2 separate regions of the Homo sapiens genome follow, and region 2 is linked to region 1. A link means that fine-mapping ties the variant in region 1 to the expression of a gene that starts in the linked region. Tissue or cell type: whole blood. Region 1 holds a variant in brackets; the other region holds the start of a gene. All regions are shown on one strand. Distances are between the middles of the regions.

Region 1 (8,338 bases):
TTTTTTTTTTTTTTTTTTTTTGAGACAGACTCTCGCTCTGTCACCAGACTGGAGTACAGTGACCCATCTTGGCTCACTGCAACCTCTGACTCCTTGGTTCAAGCGATTCTCCTGCCCCAGCCTTCCAAGTATTTGGGATTACAGGTGCATGCCACCACACCCAGGTAATTTTTTTGTATTTTTAGTAGAGTCGGGGTTTCACCATGTTGGCCAGTATGGTCTCGATCTTCTGACCTCAGATCTGCCTACCTCGACCTCCCAGAGTGCTGGGATTACAGGCATGAGCCACTGCACCCAGCCGGAGACAGGGTCTCTCTGTTGTCCAGGCTGGCCTGAAACTCCTGGGCTCAAGTGATCCGCCTGCCTCAGCTTCCCAAAGTGATGGGATTACAGGCATTAGCCACCACGCCCAGCCAGTTGTTGTTTTTCAGAATTGTTTTCCCTATTTTTGTTTGTTTGACAGTACATATATATTTCACAGTCAACTACAAAAAAATTCTGGGATTTTGATTGGAATTGCGTTAAGTCTACACATCAGTTTGGGGAGAATTGACATCTGTGTTGAGTCAGACAATCCATGAACATAGTCTATCTCTATTCTTTATCAGCGTTTTGTAGTATTTCATATGTATGTTGAACTGGCTGGAATGCAGTGGCATGATCGCAGCTCACTGTGGCTTTGACCTCCTGGGCTCAATGGATCTTCCCACCTCAGCCTCCTAAGTAGCTGGGACTACAAGTGTGTGCCACCACGCCCGGCTAATTTTTGTATTTTTTGTAGAGATAGGGTTTTGCCATGTTGCCTGGGCTGGTGTCCTGGACTCAAGTGATTCACCCACCTCTGCCTTCCAAAGTGCTGGGATTATGGGCATAAAAGTCACCACACCCAGCCAGTATACATATCTTGTACATGTTTTAGTAGGTTTATGCTTCAGTGTTTCTTTTACTTATTTATTGCTTCCTATCCCACAGCTTACTTTGTTTCTTGAGCTGTTGTAAGAGGTTGTTTTTTGAATTTTGGTTTCTGACTGTATATTTCCAGTGTTTAAAAACAAAACTGATTTTTATGTGTTGTTCTTATACCTCATAACCTTGATGAATTCACTTACTGGTTGTAGGAGATTAGGATTTTGTTTGTTTTTATAGATTTGGGGGGATTTTATGTGTGAACAATATGTCATCCATTAATAAGGACAGTTTTATTTCTTTTTATTCAATCTCTATGCCTTTTATTTCTTTTGCTTGCCTTGTTCCATTGGCTGACTTCCCGTTTATAAGGTTGAATAGTAATGGTAAGAGTCTATAGCCTTTCCTCATTCCCACTCTTGGGGAAAGCTTTCTTGCTTTCACAATTATGTATCATGTTACCCACGGGGATTTTTGGTGATGCTGTTTTATCAGGTTGAGCAAGTTCCCTTCTACTTCTAGTTTGCTTCTAGGGTTTTTTTTTTTTTTTTTTATCATGACTAGACATTTTATCAAGATGTTTTTCAATGGCTGGGTTTGGTGGCTCATGCCTATAATCCCAGCACTTTGGGAGGCCGAGGCAGGCGGATCACCTTAGGTCAGGAGTTTGAGACCAGCTTGGCCAACATGGTGAAAACCCATCTCTATTAAAAACAAAAATTAGCTGGGCATGGTGGTGCACTCCTGTAATCCCAGCTACTTGGGAGGCTGAGGCAGGAGAATTGCTTGAACTGGGAGACGGAGGTGACAGTGAGCTGAGATCGTGCCATTGCACTCTAACCTGGGCAACAAGGAAACTGTCTTCCAAAAAAAAAAAAAAAAAGATGCTTTTTCTATACCAAGTGATATGTTCATGTGGTTTTTCTCCTGTACAGTTAATATGGTGACTTATGTTGATCTTCAAATATTGGACCAACCTTGCATTCCTGGAATAAACCCTACCTGGTTATGGTGCACTATCACTTTTATATATTGCTGGATTTGATTTAAATTTTTTTTGAGGATTTTGCATCTCTGTTCATGAAGGACATTTGTCTATAATTGTCTTTTGTATTGTCTTTGTCTGGTTTTTGGTATCAGGGTGCTGTGGGCAGAAAATCGAGACCAGGAGTGGGTTTGTTGTCATCACAAATGCTCGAAAAATGTGGAAGCAGCTTTGGAACTGGGTAGTAGGCAGAGGCCAGAAGAGTTTGGAGGAGCGAGAAGAAGCTTAGATGCCATTCATGGAGTGTAAAGGGTGATTTTGTTGAGGGCTCAGAAGAGAACTGTAGGGAAAGTCTGAAGCTTCTTTGAGAATACTTAAAGTGGTCATGGTCAGAATGTTGGTAGAAATCTGGACAGTGAAGGCCATTCTGGTAAGATCTCAGACAGAAATGAAGAACAAGGTGTCAGAAACTGGAGGAATGACCATCCTAGTTATAAAGTGGCAGAGAACGTGGCTGAACGGTGTCCATGCCCAGTCCTTCCTTTGTGGAAGGAACTGGGATATCTGGCTGAAGAAATACTCAGGGTGTGGCATGTTTTCTTCTAACTGCAGAGAGTAAGATGTGAGAAGAGAAATGAATTAAAGATGGAATTTATAATTAACAAGGAAAGAATAGGGATCGTAAGGATTTTCAGCCTGCCCATTTAGGGAGTAAATAAGATGTCTTTAGGAGAACAGACCAAGTGTGTGGCCAAGCAACTTAGTATGGACAGAACGAAGCCAGAGGCTGCTCATCAGGACAGTGGGAAAATGGCCCCAGAGGCATTTCAGATTCCTGGTGCTGCCCCTCCCACCACAGGCCCAGAGTGCCAAGGCCTTTGGGAAGGAAATATGTCAAAAGAGAGGTGTAGGGTGTGGACCTTAGAGCCTGCTGGCCAGGGCCACCCCAAGTCTTGGCTGTCTGCATTCCAGTGCAGACCCCCTAAGCCACTCCAGCCTGTCTCATGTGGACCCAGGGAAGGTACAAGTCATAAGCCTTGGTGGTGTCGATTCTGCAGCCTTGCAGGAGCTGTGGGGACATGGCTTCATCCACTGGGTGTCACACAGGATGTCACAAGTCTCCAGGCCAGAGCCATGGCAGAGAGCCCACACTAGGGCAATATGTGGTAGAGCCTTGGGGATAAGGCCACCCCTGAGACCCCAGAACTGGAGAGCCTCTAGTGTTCATTGCCAGCCTGGGAGAGCTGAAGGCACGAGACTCCAACCTAAGAGAGTTGTGTGAGGTCTGAGCCCAGCAAAGCTCTAGGGGTGAGGTTCCCAAGAGCCTGAGGACCCAGCCGCACCCCACGGCGTGCAGAAGGCAGGATTTGGAGTCAAAGATGATGATTCTCAAGCCTTAGGATTTAGTAGTATTCTCCCTGTTGGACTTTGGACATGCTTTTGAGGCCTGTTATTCCTTTCCTCTTTATAATTTATCCCTTTGGAATGGAAATGTCTGTTCTATGCCTGCCCTACCATTGTATTTTGGAAGCACGTAACTTGTTTAATTTCACAGGCTCATAGTGGAGGGAAAGTTGCCTCAGGATGAATCATGCCTTGAGTCTCACCCATGTTTGATTTAGACGAGACTCTGGGCTTTGGACTTTTGAATGGGGCCATTGGGATGGAATGAGTATATTTTGTATGTGAAAAGAACATGAATTGGTGTAGGGGCAGGGATGGAATGCTACGGTTTGAATGTTTTTATCTCCCAAACTCATGTTAATATTTAATTGTCATTGTAACAGTGTTAAGAGGTGGGATCCTTAAAGGGTGATTAGGTCAGAGGGAAGATAGGCTGGAATTGGTGCTGGTATAATAAGATGAGCTTGGCCCTCTCTTGCCCTTCCACCTTCCACAGTGACACAACAAGAAGGATTGCACCAGACGCTGGCACCTTACTCTGGGACTTCCCAGCCCCCAGAACTGTGAGCCAATAAATTTCTATTCCTTATAAATTATCTGGTCTCAGGTATTCGGTTATAGCAGCAAAAACAGACTAAGAGAAGACAATGTTTGTGCCCCCCCCACCCAATTTCCTGTGTTGAAACATAATCTCCAATGTGATGGTACTTGGA[G/A]GCAGGACTTTTTAGATCATGAGGGTGCAACACTTGTGGATGGGATTCGTGCCCTTAAAAAGAGGCTGCAGCCCAGTATGGTGGCTCACGCCGTAATCCCAGCACTTACGGAAGCCGAGGCAGGCGGATCACTTCAGCCTAGGAGTTCAAAACCAGCCTGGACAACATGGCAAAACCCCATCTCTACAAAAAATATAAAAATTAGCTGGGTGTGGTGGTGCATGCCTGTGGTCCCAGCTACTTGAGAGGCTGAGGTGGGAGGATCACTTGAGCCTGAAGGTCGAAGCTGCAGTAAGTCATGACTGTACTGGTGACTCAAGGCTGGGCAACAGAGTGAGAACCTGTCTTTTTTTTTTTTTTTTTTTTTGAGATGGAGTCTTGCTCTGTCGCCCAGGCTGGAGTGCAGTGGCGCGATCTCGGCTCACTGCAAGCTCCGCCTCCTGGGTTCACGCCATTCTGCCTCAGCCTCCCGAGTAGCTGGAACTTGGTCTCGATCCTCCTGACCTTGTGATCTGCCCACCTCGGCCTCCCAAAGTGCTGGGATTAACAAGCGTGAGCCACCGCACACGGCCTTTTTTTTTTTGTATTTTTAGTAGAGACGGGATTTTACCATGTTGGCCAGGCTGGTCTTGAACTCCTGACCTCAGGTGATCTGCCCGCCTTGGCCTCCCAAAATGTTAGGGTTACAGGCGTAAGCCACCGTGCCCAGCCTTTTTCCTTCTCTTTTTATAGATACCTAATCTTGGTATGAATGGTCCTTTTTACATCTTCTATTTTTTTGCTGAGACTTTCATATTTTTACATCCATTGCAAAATGTTTGTGATTGCTTGCTCTGGCATATTTATAGTAGCTACTTTAAAGCCCTTGTCAGATAATTTCAGCATCTGTGTCTGTGTCACTTCCTCCCAAGCCTGGCGTTTGGTTGGTGAGGACTTGCAGGTTCCCCCTGCATATCGGGAAGTGTGAGTTTTTGTTCAGGGTGCATCTACCTGGGGCCATGGCATAATGTTCATCTGCAATGATTGTAAGGTGTTCAGATTTTGTAAATCCAAATAAAACTGTTTTAAAGAACACAATCCTCAGCCGGGCATGGTGGCTCATGCCTGGAATCCCAGCACTTTGGGAGGCCGAGGCGGGCGGATCACGAGGTCAGGAGATCGAGACCATCCTGGCCAACACAGTGAAACCCCGTCTCCACTAAAATAATACAAAAAAATTAGCCGGGCATGGTGGCGGGCGCCTGTAGTCCCAGCTACTCGGGAGGCTGGGGCAGGAGAATGGCATGAACCTGGTAGGCAGAGCCTGCAGTGAGCTGAGATCGCGCCACTGCACTCCAGCCTGGGCGACAGAGCAAGACTCTGTCTCAAAAAAAAAAAAAAAAAAAAAAAATCTCTCTCTCCTACATTGCTGTCTGCAAAACAATGGAGGTTATGGATGTTAGATTGCATCTCGATGTTAAACCTTTGCTAATGTACTTATGGGAATCACAAAGATTCTGTTTGTAAATACAGAAGTGAATTGTAGACATAAAATGGTTGTGCCATGTGGATAATGGCAGGCACTAGGTGACATTTATGTAGTAACTAATGACAAAAATTCATGGCTAGTGGCATATAAAATACTCTTTGCAGTAAAATATTTCCTTGATTAATGTTATAGAAGGGGGACATAACAAGGAACTCACAGTTGGTGTGGCAGCTAGCCTCAAAGACTGTCTTTCATTTGGTTTCAGCACCTCCTGTTTGGGGTTATTAGCATCTTAGAAGAGCACGGTGGCCTTGTCTGATGAAGCCGAATTGTGCTGGTCTGTTCCGAGCTGGTTTAAGTGTTCTGATGGGCAGCTGTGGATGTTGGGGTTCAGAGCTTAGTCATCGTTGCCTGAAATGGCACTAGACTCTACAATTTCTGCCTTGGAGAACACTCAGTTCTTACTTGTGATTTCTGGTAGAACAAGCTTTATTTTTCTAGCCTAGTAATGATCTTGAAGCAGAGGAATCCCAGTGCCTTTTAAGAATTGTGTTGGCCGGTGCGGTGGCTCACGCCTGTAATCCCAGCACTTCTGGAGGCCGAGGCTGGAAGATTACTTGAGCCCAGGAGTTTGAGACCAGCCTGGGCAACATAGACCTCATTTCTACAAAAATTAAAAAATAATAAAAATTTGTTGTGTGGTTTTTTAAAAAAGCTACTAATTGTTTTTGGGAAATAGAATTTATGGGTCTTTACCTTTGCACATTGAATCTTTTATTTTTTATTTTTATTTTTTAGAAACAGGGTCTCTGTCACCCAGGCTGGAGTGCAGCGGCCCGGTGATTGCTCCCTGCAGCCGTGGCCTCCCAGGGAACTAGGGTTTCAGGTGTGAGCCGCGGTGCCCAGCTGCAAGTTGAAATGTTGTGGTTCTTCGTGTGTCAAGCAATTTTGGGCTATATTCTAGACATTTTGAATATGACTTTATGAGATCTGGGTCATGTTTGAATCCTGTGGGAAATGTTGAAGTCTGGTTAGCAGGCACTTGGTCCTGTGAAGGTTGGGCCCACATTGTTCCTGCCCGCATGAGTATCTTTGGTTAGCAGGCACTTGGTCCTGGGATGGTCAGGCCCACACTGCTCCCACCTGCGTGGGTGTCTTTGGTTAGCAGGCACTTGGTCCTGTGAGGGTTGGGCCCACACTGCTCCCACCTGCGTGGACTCCTGTCTTCAGAGCTGCTGGTCTTTGGTCTGGGACCCAAGGCTGGTCTGCAGTTCCCCACGTCCATGGTGTGATCATTAGACCCATGTGTCTGCATGTGAGCTGAGCCCGGCATCCACAGCCACCCCATGTGGGTGCTTCCCAAGCTCCCCACGCTGGGTTTGGTTGCTGGGCTCACTCACTGTCAGTTCAGACAGTGACATGCCCTTGACTGGGCCGCGTTGGAGTCTATGTGGCAGGAGGACAGGGGAGGAAAGCTAATGGGGGTGGTCCCACCCTCAATACAGCCGCACTGAGCTGTGAGGGACTTTCTGGCCCCAAGTTTGGCTCTGATGGGTTCCTGTAGCCACCACTCCCACTGCCATCAGGGTCACAAAAGAATGGAGAAGAGGGTAAACCCAGGGCATTGCCTCACTGACCCTGCGCATCGGCGTGGGTTCCTTTCCCTGGCCCTTAGGGCTGCTCTGGGCTTTCTGCCTGGCCCCAGCACTCACGTCCGGTGTTGCGGCTGCGTGGAGTTCAGGTCATGGATGTTAGGTCAAGCACCAGTTCTGCGAAACTTGGGATCTTGCTGCTGCTCCCTGACCCAGCTCTCTGGCAGCTGCTCCAGGCCCCGTGCACAAGTTTCATAGCTGCAGTTTCACAGAGTTCACTCTGTCGCCCAGGCTGGAGTGCAGTGGCGCAATCTCAGCTCATTCCCGGGTTCAATGAATTCTCCTGCCTCAGTCCCCTGAGTAGCTGGGATTAGAGGTGTGTGCCACCACGCTCGGCTAATTTTTTTTTTTTTTTTTTTTAAGTACAAAAGGGGTTTCACCGTGTTGGCCAGGCTGGTCTTGATCTCCTGACCTCAAGTGATCCGCCTCGGCCTCCCAAAGTGCTAGGATTACAGGCATGAACCACCACGCCCGGCCTGACCTCAGCATATGTTTTCTGAGGACTTCTGTTCTTTTGCTAATTCAGTCACTTTCTCTTTAAACACTGGGTCTCCACCCCTGCCCCGTAGATGGGGTGGGGGCATGCATGCCGCTCCATTCCCCTCCCAGGGCTGTGTTTCTTTCGTCTCCTCTGTGCCATCTTCTGCTGCCTGGTCCTCTCGTCGAGTCTGTCTGGTCCAGCACTTTCCACATATCAAGATTTTTTTTTTTTTCTTTTCCTTTTTTGAGACAGAGTCTTGTTCTGTCGCCCAGGCTGGAGTGCAGTGGTGCAATCTCGGCTCACTGCAAGCTCCGCCTCCCAGGTTCACGCCATTCTCCTACCTCAGTCTCTCGAGTAGCTGAGACTACAGGCGTCCGCCACCGCGCCCGGCTAATTTTTTGTATTTTTAGTAGAGACAGGGTTTCACCTTGTTAGCCAGGATGGCCTCGATCTGACCTCGTGATCTGCCCACCTCGGCCTCCCAAAGTACTGGGATTACAGGCGTGAGCCACCGCGCCCGGCCTACGTATCAAGCTTTTGATGCAGTCACTCGCCCTGTCATTTTCCAGTGTCTAATTGGCTCCCTTTTTATTTTGAAATGTCCAAGTCCTCTTGATTTCTGTCCCCACTTTTGTTTTATGGTGCATAGGAATGTTTTTGTTAGTCTCCTTGAATGTGAACGTAGGTAAGTCCTTTTCAGGAAATTGCTCAATTCTTTGGAGCCTGCCC
Region 2 (8,034 bases), 86 kb before region 1:
CCGCGCCCTTGCCAACGAGCTGCATCCCATCAAGTTGCAGCCGCAGCGGGGCGGCCCCGGCCGCGTCGCGCCCCTGTGCGCCGCCGCGGGCCGCTGCGCACCGCCCGAGCCACCCGCGGGTCCCGCCCCCCACGTGCGCTGCCGCCTGGACATCAAGCCAGACGACGCAGTGCTCCAGCACGCCACCCGGGGCTCGCGGTCCTGCGGGCCCACCGAGGCCGCGCACTGGGCCCGCCCCGCCCCGCAGTTCCACGGCCTCACGGTGCCCGGGCCCCGCCACATGGCGCTGTCGCGCACCCCGACGCCCAGCGACTCATACTGTGCGGATCCCCGGGCGTTCTACTGCGACGGGCCCCTGCCTGGGCCCCGGGACTACGCCGAGCGCCGCAGTCTGCCCTTCACCACCCCGCCGGGCCCCACCCAGTTCTTCTATACAGAGGAGCCCCAAGGCTTCCGGGGCAGCTTTGCAGCCAGTCCCGGCCCAACCTTCGACGCCTACTACCCCAGGCCCTATCCGTCCGAGGAGCTCTCGGGGCCCAGTCCAAGGCGCATGGGCGGCTACTACGCAGGAGAGGTGCGCACCTTCCCAATCCAGGAACCGCCCTCCCGCTCCTACTATGGGGAGGCTCCACGAGCCTACGGCCTGCCCTACGGGCCCCGCTATGTCCCCGAGGAGCCCCGGGCCCACTCCACCGCCCGCCCCTTTTACACGGAGGACTTCGGAAGGTACCGCGAGCGTGACGTCCTGGCTCGGACGTACCCGCACCCGCGCAGCAGCCCGGCCTGGGCGGACTGGGGCCCGCGACCGTACCGCACCCTGCAAGTGGTGCCGCCCTCTGACCCCGACCCGTTGCTCGCCTCCTGGCACGGCGGCACCGGCACCAGTCCGCCCCGGCTGGCCACCGACAGCCGCCACTACTCGCGCTCCTGGGACAACATTCTGGCCCCGGGGCCGCGCCGAGAAGACCCGTTGGGCCGCGGCCGCAGCTACGAGAACCTGCTGGGGCGCGAGGTGCGGGAGCCGCGAGGCGTGTCCCCCGAAGGCCGGCGCCCGCCCGTCGTCGTGAACCTGTCCACCTCTCCCAGACGCTACGCCGCACTGTCCCTGTCCGAGACGTCGCTGACGGAGAAGGGCCGCGCGGGCGAGGGCCTGGGCCGCAACTGGTACGTGACGCCCGAGATCACCATCACTGACAATGACCTGCGCGCCACCGAGCGCCCGAGCGCCAGGGCCTGGGAGTTGCCCGGGGGCCGCACGCGGCCACCTCCCCACGCGGCCCCCGACGGCCCCACCTCTGGCCGCCAGCGGAGCCTAGAGCAGCTGGACGAGCTCATCACGGACCTGGTCATCGACTCGCGACCCACCGCCGGCCAGGCCTCAGAGCCCGCGGCCGACTGCCTGGGCCCCCAACTGCGCCGACTGCTGGACTCGCGGCCCGCGGGCTCCGGGGCCCCCGCGCTGGCGCCGCCACGCTCGCCCCCCGCCTCGGCCGGCAGCGCCGAGGAGCCCGCGGCCCCGGGAGAGGCGGCCGACGCGTCCCCCGAACCCAGCGCCGACGAGGACGACCTGATGACCTGCTCCAATGCGCGCTGCCGGCGCACCGAGACCATGTTCAACGCCTGCCTCTACTTCAAGTCCTGCCACAGCTGCTACACCTACTACTGCTCGCGCCTGTGCCGCCGCGAGGACTGGGACGCCCACAAGGCGCGCTGCGTGTACGGCCGCGTGGGCAGCGTGTGCCGCCACGTACTGCAGTTTTGCCGCGACAGCGGCCCGGTGCACCGCGCTTTCTCGCGCATCGCGCGTGTCGGCTTCCTGTCGCGCGGCCGCGGCGTGCTCTTCCTGGGCTTCCCAAGTCCAGGCTCGGCCGACAACTTCCTGCGCTTTGGCCTGGAGGGGCTGCTGCTATCCCCCACCTACCTATCGCTGCGTGAGCTGGCCACACACGCGGCGCCCCTGGGCAGCTACGCGCGCGAGCTGGCGGCCGCTGGGCGCCTCTACGAACCGGCAGAGTGCTTCCTGCTCAGCGTGTCCGTGGCCGTGGGACCCGGCACCGCGCCACCGGGGACACCGGCCCTGCCCGCGCCCGCGCCACGCAGCCACGGGCCAACAGTGCGCAAGTTCGCCAAGGTAGCGCTGGCGGCCGGCAGCCCCGCGCGGCCGCCCCCGGCGCGGAGCCGCGAGCCCGACATGGAGACGCTGATCCTGACGCCACCGCCGGGCACGGCGGGCCTGGATCAGGACGGCGAGGCGGGCCGGCGCGCGCGCGAGGTGGCCTTCATCCACATCCAGCGCGAGCTGCGGCTGCGCGGCGTCTTCCTGCGCCACGAGTTCCCGCGCGTCTACGAGCAGCTTTGCGAGTTCGTCGAGGCCAACAGGCGCTTCACGCCCACCACCATCTACCCCACGGACCGGCGCACCGGCCGCCCCTTCATGTGCATGATCATGGCCGCCTCCGAGCCGCGCGCGCTCGACTGGGTGGCCAGCGCCAACCTGCTGGACGACATCATGTGAGGCGCCGGGCCCACCAGGCCTAGCCCAGGCGCTGGCCCGAACCCTGCCCTGCCCACTCAGGCCCCGCCCGGCCCACCCAGGGCCGCCCCCGAGCCCCGCCAGGGCCCCACCCCGACTTCTTCTAGGCCCCGCCTCTAATTCCCCAGCCTTCCAAGCTCCGCTCAGTTCGGCCTCCAGCTCCGCCCAGGCCCCCACCCCCCGGCCCTTCGTCCCCGTAGTGTTCCTCACAGGCCCTTCGCCTTCCCACCCCCAGCAACCCCTCTCCCTCCTCCGGGCCTCCTCCCTCTCCCAGCTCGCCCTCGAGGATCCCCAGAAGAAGTCGGTCCTCGCCCTCGGTGCTCCCCGCTGGGAGGCGGGGTGGGCCTGAGGACCGCCGAGCTCTGCCTTCACTCGGAGGGGTCACTACTGCACAGACCCCACCCGTAGAGATCCGGTCCCCGTCGGTCCGCGGGGCTCTCGCTGGAGCCTCCCCGACTCCGGTTTCCCCTCGTCCAGAAGCCCGACGTAACCAAAGCCCAGTCTGTCACTTTAAACACGCCCCGCCCCGCCTCCCGCGGCTGTGTTGCCTCCTCGCTGGAGAACACCCTGGTCGACCTCTGTGCGTCCGTGTGCGCGAGCGCGTCCCGCCGAGGCGGTGGGCAGGGCGGACGGTGCGCAGTGCGTTCCCGCTGGTCGGAGCCAGCACACTAACCACGCCACGCGCCCTGCCGTCCCTTCGCCTCCAGCCGCTGCAGTCTGGGCCCTGCAGGAGCTGGGAAAAACCGCAGGGAGGTCTTCAGGCCGATATGCAAGTCTCCCAGCCGAAGGGGCAGGGGACCTGAACAGGGGAAGCAGAGCACCTGGGCCTGGCCAGAGCTGACACCTGGCTAGGAGAGGAAGGACCAAGGGACGGGGCGTTCCCAGGTGGGAGCCTGGAGGGCAAAGCGTGGTGCGAGCAGGTGAGGGAGAGAGCTAGTTGGTAAGCGTGGAAGCCCACCCGAGGGGGCTTGACCTGTCCCGAGAGGTCCCCGCACACCCGCTCTGGCCGCACGCCGTACTGCGGGCGTGGAGGCGCAAGCCCGGCGGCCCGGCCTCCACCTGTCCCCCAAGTGCACCCTGGTCCGCGCCCAGAGCTCTCTGGAGGGTGGGGTATGCGGGAGAGGGGTGGAGGCCAAACGCAAGGGCCCTCCTGGAGTCCCCAGCCCTACTTCGGAGCCAGGGGAGGGGGCACCAAGTGAGAGAAATTGGGCACCCCCGCCTCCGCTCCTGCTTTCGCACCCGGCACGCCCATCTCGTCCCCGCGCGTCTGCACCGGCCAGGCGTCCCGCTTGCCCACCCGCCGCCGCGCCCCGCGCCCCCTACCCCAGGGCCTCTGCATTCGGCCCCACCCCTGAGGGCCGGCCGGGAACGCCCCTGGACCGGAATAATTTCCAGGGGGCAAGAGCTTTCGAACCAAGTAAAATAGAACTTGAATGTAGCGGCTGCCGTTGCCTCCTTGTACCGGTAGCGGGGTTGGGGACGGAAGCCTTCGGTCGGTGGAGAGGAGAAAGGGAGAGGCCTTCGGGCGGTGGACGGGGAAGAGAGGGAGTCCTTCGGGCGGTGGAGGGGGTGGAGAGCGAGGCCTTCGGGCGGTGGAGAGCGGGGAGGGGGGAGGCCTTCGGGCGGTGGGAGGGGGAGAGAGGGAGGCCTTTGGGCGGTGGGGGCCACGGGGAGGGTGGTCTTCGGACTACGTGCGGGACAGGAGGTCAGGGCTGGCAAGTCCCTCAGGCCTCCCTCGTTGCCCCAGCCTCGCGGGCCGCCTAACTGCCCCGTTCCAAGGGTGCCACCGGACCCCGCTGGAGAGGAACTTCTCCGTTGGCTGGATTTCATCACCACCCATTCCCGATTCCACGTTTCCTTTAAGCGGGGCTGGCGGAGCCGCAAGGCGGCAAGGAACTGGATTGCGATTGGTCAGCACGTGCCTCGGTCGGCGGTACAATTGGCTGAGGCGCTGGGCCTTGGGAAGCATTCCCCGACGGGATTGGTCGTCGCTCTCGCAGAGCCCGCCTCCCGCAGTACAAGCGGCCCCCGGGTCGGGTGGGAGGAGGGGACTCCGGGAGGAGGAACATGGCGGTGGCGGACCTCGCTCTCATTCCTGATGTGGACATCGACTCCGACGGCGTCTTCAAGTATGTGCTGATCCGAGTCCACTCGGCTCCCCGCTCCGGGGCTCCGGCTGCAGAGAGCAAGGAGATCGTGCGCGGCTACAAGTGGGCTGAGTACCATGGTGAGGGCGGGACCTGCGGGCATGCCAGGGGCACGCCTGGCGAGGCGGGGGCGGGGCTGGCGGGACGGAGACGGGGCTGACGAGGCAGGGGCGGGGCTGGCGGGGCGGGGGCGGGGCTGCGGGCCGTAGCGGACTGCGCTCTGCTCCGAGTCCTGCCCCTGCTAGGTTTGACCCAGGCTGAGGTCCTGGGCGGGAAGGGCGTGACACGGCCTGACACCCTCCCCAGCAGTCTCCCAGTTCCCGCGCCCTCCCCGGTTCCACCCTCCTTCGCTCATTCATCCCTGTCCCAGCCTCAAGGGGCTTCGTCTCTCCTGGGGAAGGGGCTGTTCAGAGCTGGGATTTCAGACCCCTTCGGCTGGGAGTTCCTCCCGCGGCCTCCAAGGGCGGCCAGGGCACGTCCTGAGGCCGCCCTCCCATCCCAGCGGACATCTACGACAAAGTGTCGGGCGACATGCAGAAGCAAGGCTGCGACTGTGAGTGTCTGGGCGGCGGGCGCATCTCCCACCAGAGTCAGGACAAGAAGATTCACGTGTACGGCTATTCCATGGTGAGCCGCAGCCCCGTCCCGCCCTGCCGGAGGCCCCAGTACCAGCTTCGAGGCCCACCTGAGCCTGCTGCCCTGACCCGTGGCCCCAGCTGAGCACGCAGGCTTCCTGGGGTTCTCCCAGGGTCGGCGGCAGAGCCCTCCCTCCAGGGCCCATTGTGTTCCTGCATTCCCCCATGGAGCACACGCCAGACCTGAGGGGTGGGACGGACACCCCCAGACATGGCCGGCTGTCTCCTCTCCCTGCCTTGGGAGGCCTTGCTGGGCTCTAGCTGTCCTCCAGCACTTTGGGCCCTGGGCCCCCAGAGGCAGTCAGTACCTGGGTGGAGCTCAGAGTCCCCACCTGTGCTCTTCACAAAAACCACCAGCAGATGAGACCCACGTGCGTCCCTCTGGGCGCCTCAGGCCCCAGGATCCACCATCAAGGTTTGCTTGCCTGTGGAGGTCGCCTCTCCCCAGGGGAGCCCCCAAGGGCGGTCGGGATGGTGGGTTTGGCATCCCCAGGCACTGCCTATCCCTTTCCCACACTCGCTTCTGGTGTGGCTGGTGGCTGGATGCCCAGAGCCGGGTATCGGGTTGAAGGGTCCAGGTAGTGCCAGCAGGCGTCTTCTCTTCTCCAGGCCTATGGTCCTGCCCAGCACGCCATTTCAACTGAGAAAATCAAAGCCAAGTACCCCGACTACGAGGTCACCTGGGCTAACGACGGCTACTGAGCACTCCCAGCCCGGGGCCTGCTGCCTCCAGCAGCCACTTCAGAGCCCCCGCCTTTGCCTGCACTCCTCTTGCAGGGCTGGCCCTGCCTGCTCCTGCGGCAGCCTCTGGTGACGTGCTGTCCACCAGGCCTTGGAGACAGGCTAGCCTGGCCACAGAATTAAACGTGTTGCCACACCTGCCGGCTTCTGAACTCTGTCCTTGGCTTCCTGCACCCTGCGTCACCACCTCCGGGGGCCCCCAGACCCTAACTAAAGCAGGTGGGTGGGGGAACACAGGAGTGGCCCCAGGGAGTGGCGGTGCACACTCAGCCCTTTGGGGTCTGATAAAGGGGCCCGCTGATGGCCTGACTGCTCTTCCCACGGCCATCGTCCTCCAGGGCATCTTGGAGGAGGTCTGGCAAGCCCTTGCGAGAGGAGTCAGGGCCTGGTCCCTCGGGCTGGCCAAGACCTGGGGCGCCCACCAGTGCTCCCTCCTATGAGCCCATCCCAGGGCTCCCCAGTGTCCTGTCTGCCCTGAGGCTCCTTCCGTGACCTGCAGGCTCCTTCCATGACCAGCCCCATGGGGCCTACCAGTATCCAGGGTCAGGTCGCACAGCTGCATCTACCCCACAGGCTCACGTTGACTCTGGAGGCCCCTCCCAGGTCCCTCTTGCACCCGGCAGGGCTGTGGGCAGGACACGGGTTCAGGCCTTGCCCTGGGAAGCCCCATACACAGTGGGACTCCATGGGGTGGTGCAGGGGCACCCTGGGGGCCAGGGCTGGTTGTACACAGGGCACCCCCACCTTTGTCAGCTCACTGGTCCTCCGGCCAGCCTCTCCAGACGGGCACTGTCATAACCACATTTTACAGACCGGGACACTGAGGCTCAGTGACACAAGCTCCGAGGTCACACCATGGGAAATCACAAACAGGGCCTGGCCCCAAATGCCACACTCCTTCCCCAGCCCCAAAGACCCTGCCCCAAGCATGAGTCTGCTCCATGAGAAACCGAAGTTTCTGGGCTCCTAGGGACCCTGTATCTGGCACCGGACAGCACCTGGCTGCTCAGGACGAATGAATGACGGCGTGATCCTCCACAGCCTGACTTAAAGGCAGGTTCCCCACGGCTGAGAACGCAGGGACCAGCTCTGGTGCACGTGCTGGACTCCTGCAGCTGCTGGACTGGTTGAGTCCTGACCTTGGCCAGCACCACGCTATTGCCAGAGGCACAGTGAGAGGCCACGGCGGCCTCTGCCCGCCCCACACTGCCGAGCAGAGTCCTGGTGGGGTGCCTGGGTCCCTCCCCATTCCAGTGGGAGCCTCCCCTTCACCAGGCAGGGCAGGGCAGGGTGGAAGAGCCTGACCTTGTGTCTGAGGGAGCCGGGCAGGTGGGAGCTGACCCTGGGTCAGAGGCCCCCTCCTGGGGCCACTTTCACGGCCCATGCTTGGCACCGTCAGCACTGGGTGGGGCCGGGCCGAGGGGCCCTCCACTTAACAGCAGAGTCAGCGTGCGGGGCCAGCGCAGGCTGATAACCGCACGGAACTTCCCAGGCACCCTGTGTGGCCGCACTGCTCCCTCTGGCCCAACCATGCCTCTGTCCAGCCACCTGCTGCCCGCCTTGGTCCTGTTCCTGGGTAAGTAGTCTGGTCCCACTCCTGAGGCAGGACCAGGGGCCCTGGCTTCTGAGCCTACCATCTGTGTGGCAGTGACGGACACCAGGGCTGATGCCTGAGCCCCAAAGGGAAGGAGGGTTGCAAGGTACTACCTTGGCCGGCCTGCAAGGGGGGTGACCTGGAATCAGCCCATGGGGTCCTCGGGCCTGCCAAGCAAAGGAAGAGGCACGACTCCCCTCCCAGTCTGGGACAAGAGGGCTCAGGAGGTGCCCCCAGCTCTGCCAGCCTTCATCTGCCACCCTTGGACTGGGTGGAGCTTGTGGAGGCCCTGGGCCGCCCGTCGATGCCTCCCATTGGGGGTCGCCCTCCCAGTGCCCAGTTCCCTGCTGGGCACTCTGGGTTCCTGCTACCTTTCTTGGGGTG

What was found. PIP is the estimated chance that this variant, and not a neighbour inherited with it, causes the effect.
Region 2: it holds the start of PHPT1, and the variant in region 1 is fine-mapped to the expression of PHPT1 in whole blood (TOPMed, PIP above 0.99).

Annotation. Positions count from the first base shown.
Region 1 is chr9:136,930,936-136,939,273 of GRCh38, forward strand. No RefSeq gene overlaps it. Among named protein-coding and RNA genes, the nearest start is that of FBXW5, 9.6 kb to the right of the region's middle. RefSeq lists enhancers at 6,509-7,122, 7,123-7,735. The variant G/A (reference allele first, on the strand shown) is at 4,009.
Region 2 is chr9:136,844,831-136,852,864 of GRCh38, forward strand. PHPT1 (phosphohistidine phosphatase 1) reads left to right here and starts at 4,579. Exons shown (of 3, transcript NM_014172.6): 1 at 4,579-4,760; 2 at 5,183-5,307; 3 at 5,925-6,194. The coding sequence starts at 4,601. The coding sequence ends at 6,017. AJM1 (apical junction component 1 homolog) reads left to right here. Exons shown (of 3, transcript NM_001080482.5): 3 at 1-3,971. The coding sequence ends at 2,515. MAMDC4 (MAM domain containing 4) reads left to right here and starts at 7,516. Exons shown (of 27, transcript NM_206920.3): 1 at 7,516-7,632. The coding sequence starts at 7,587. RefSeq lists silencers at 2,991-3,040, 3,521-3,750, 3,971-4,030, 4,111-4,190, 4,371-4,430 and 1 more and an enhancer at 4,551-4,830.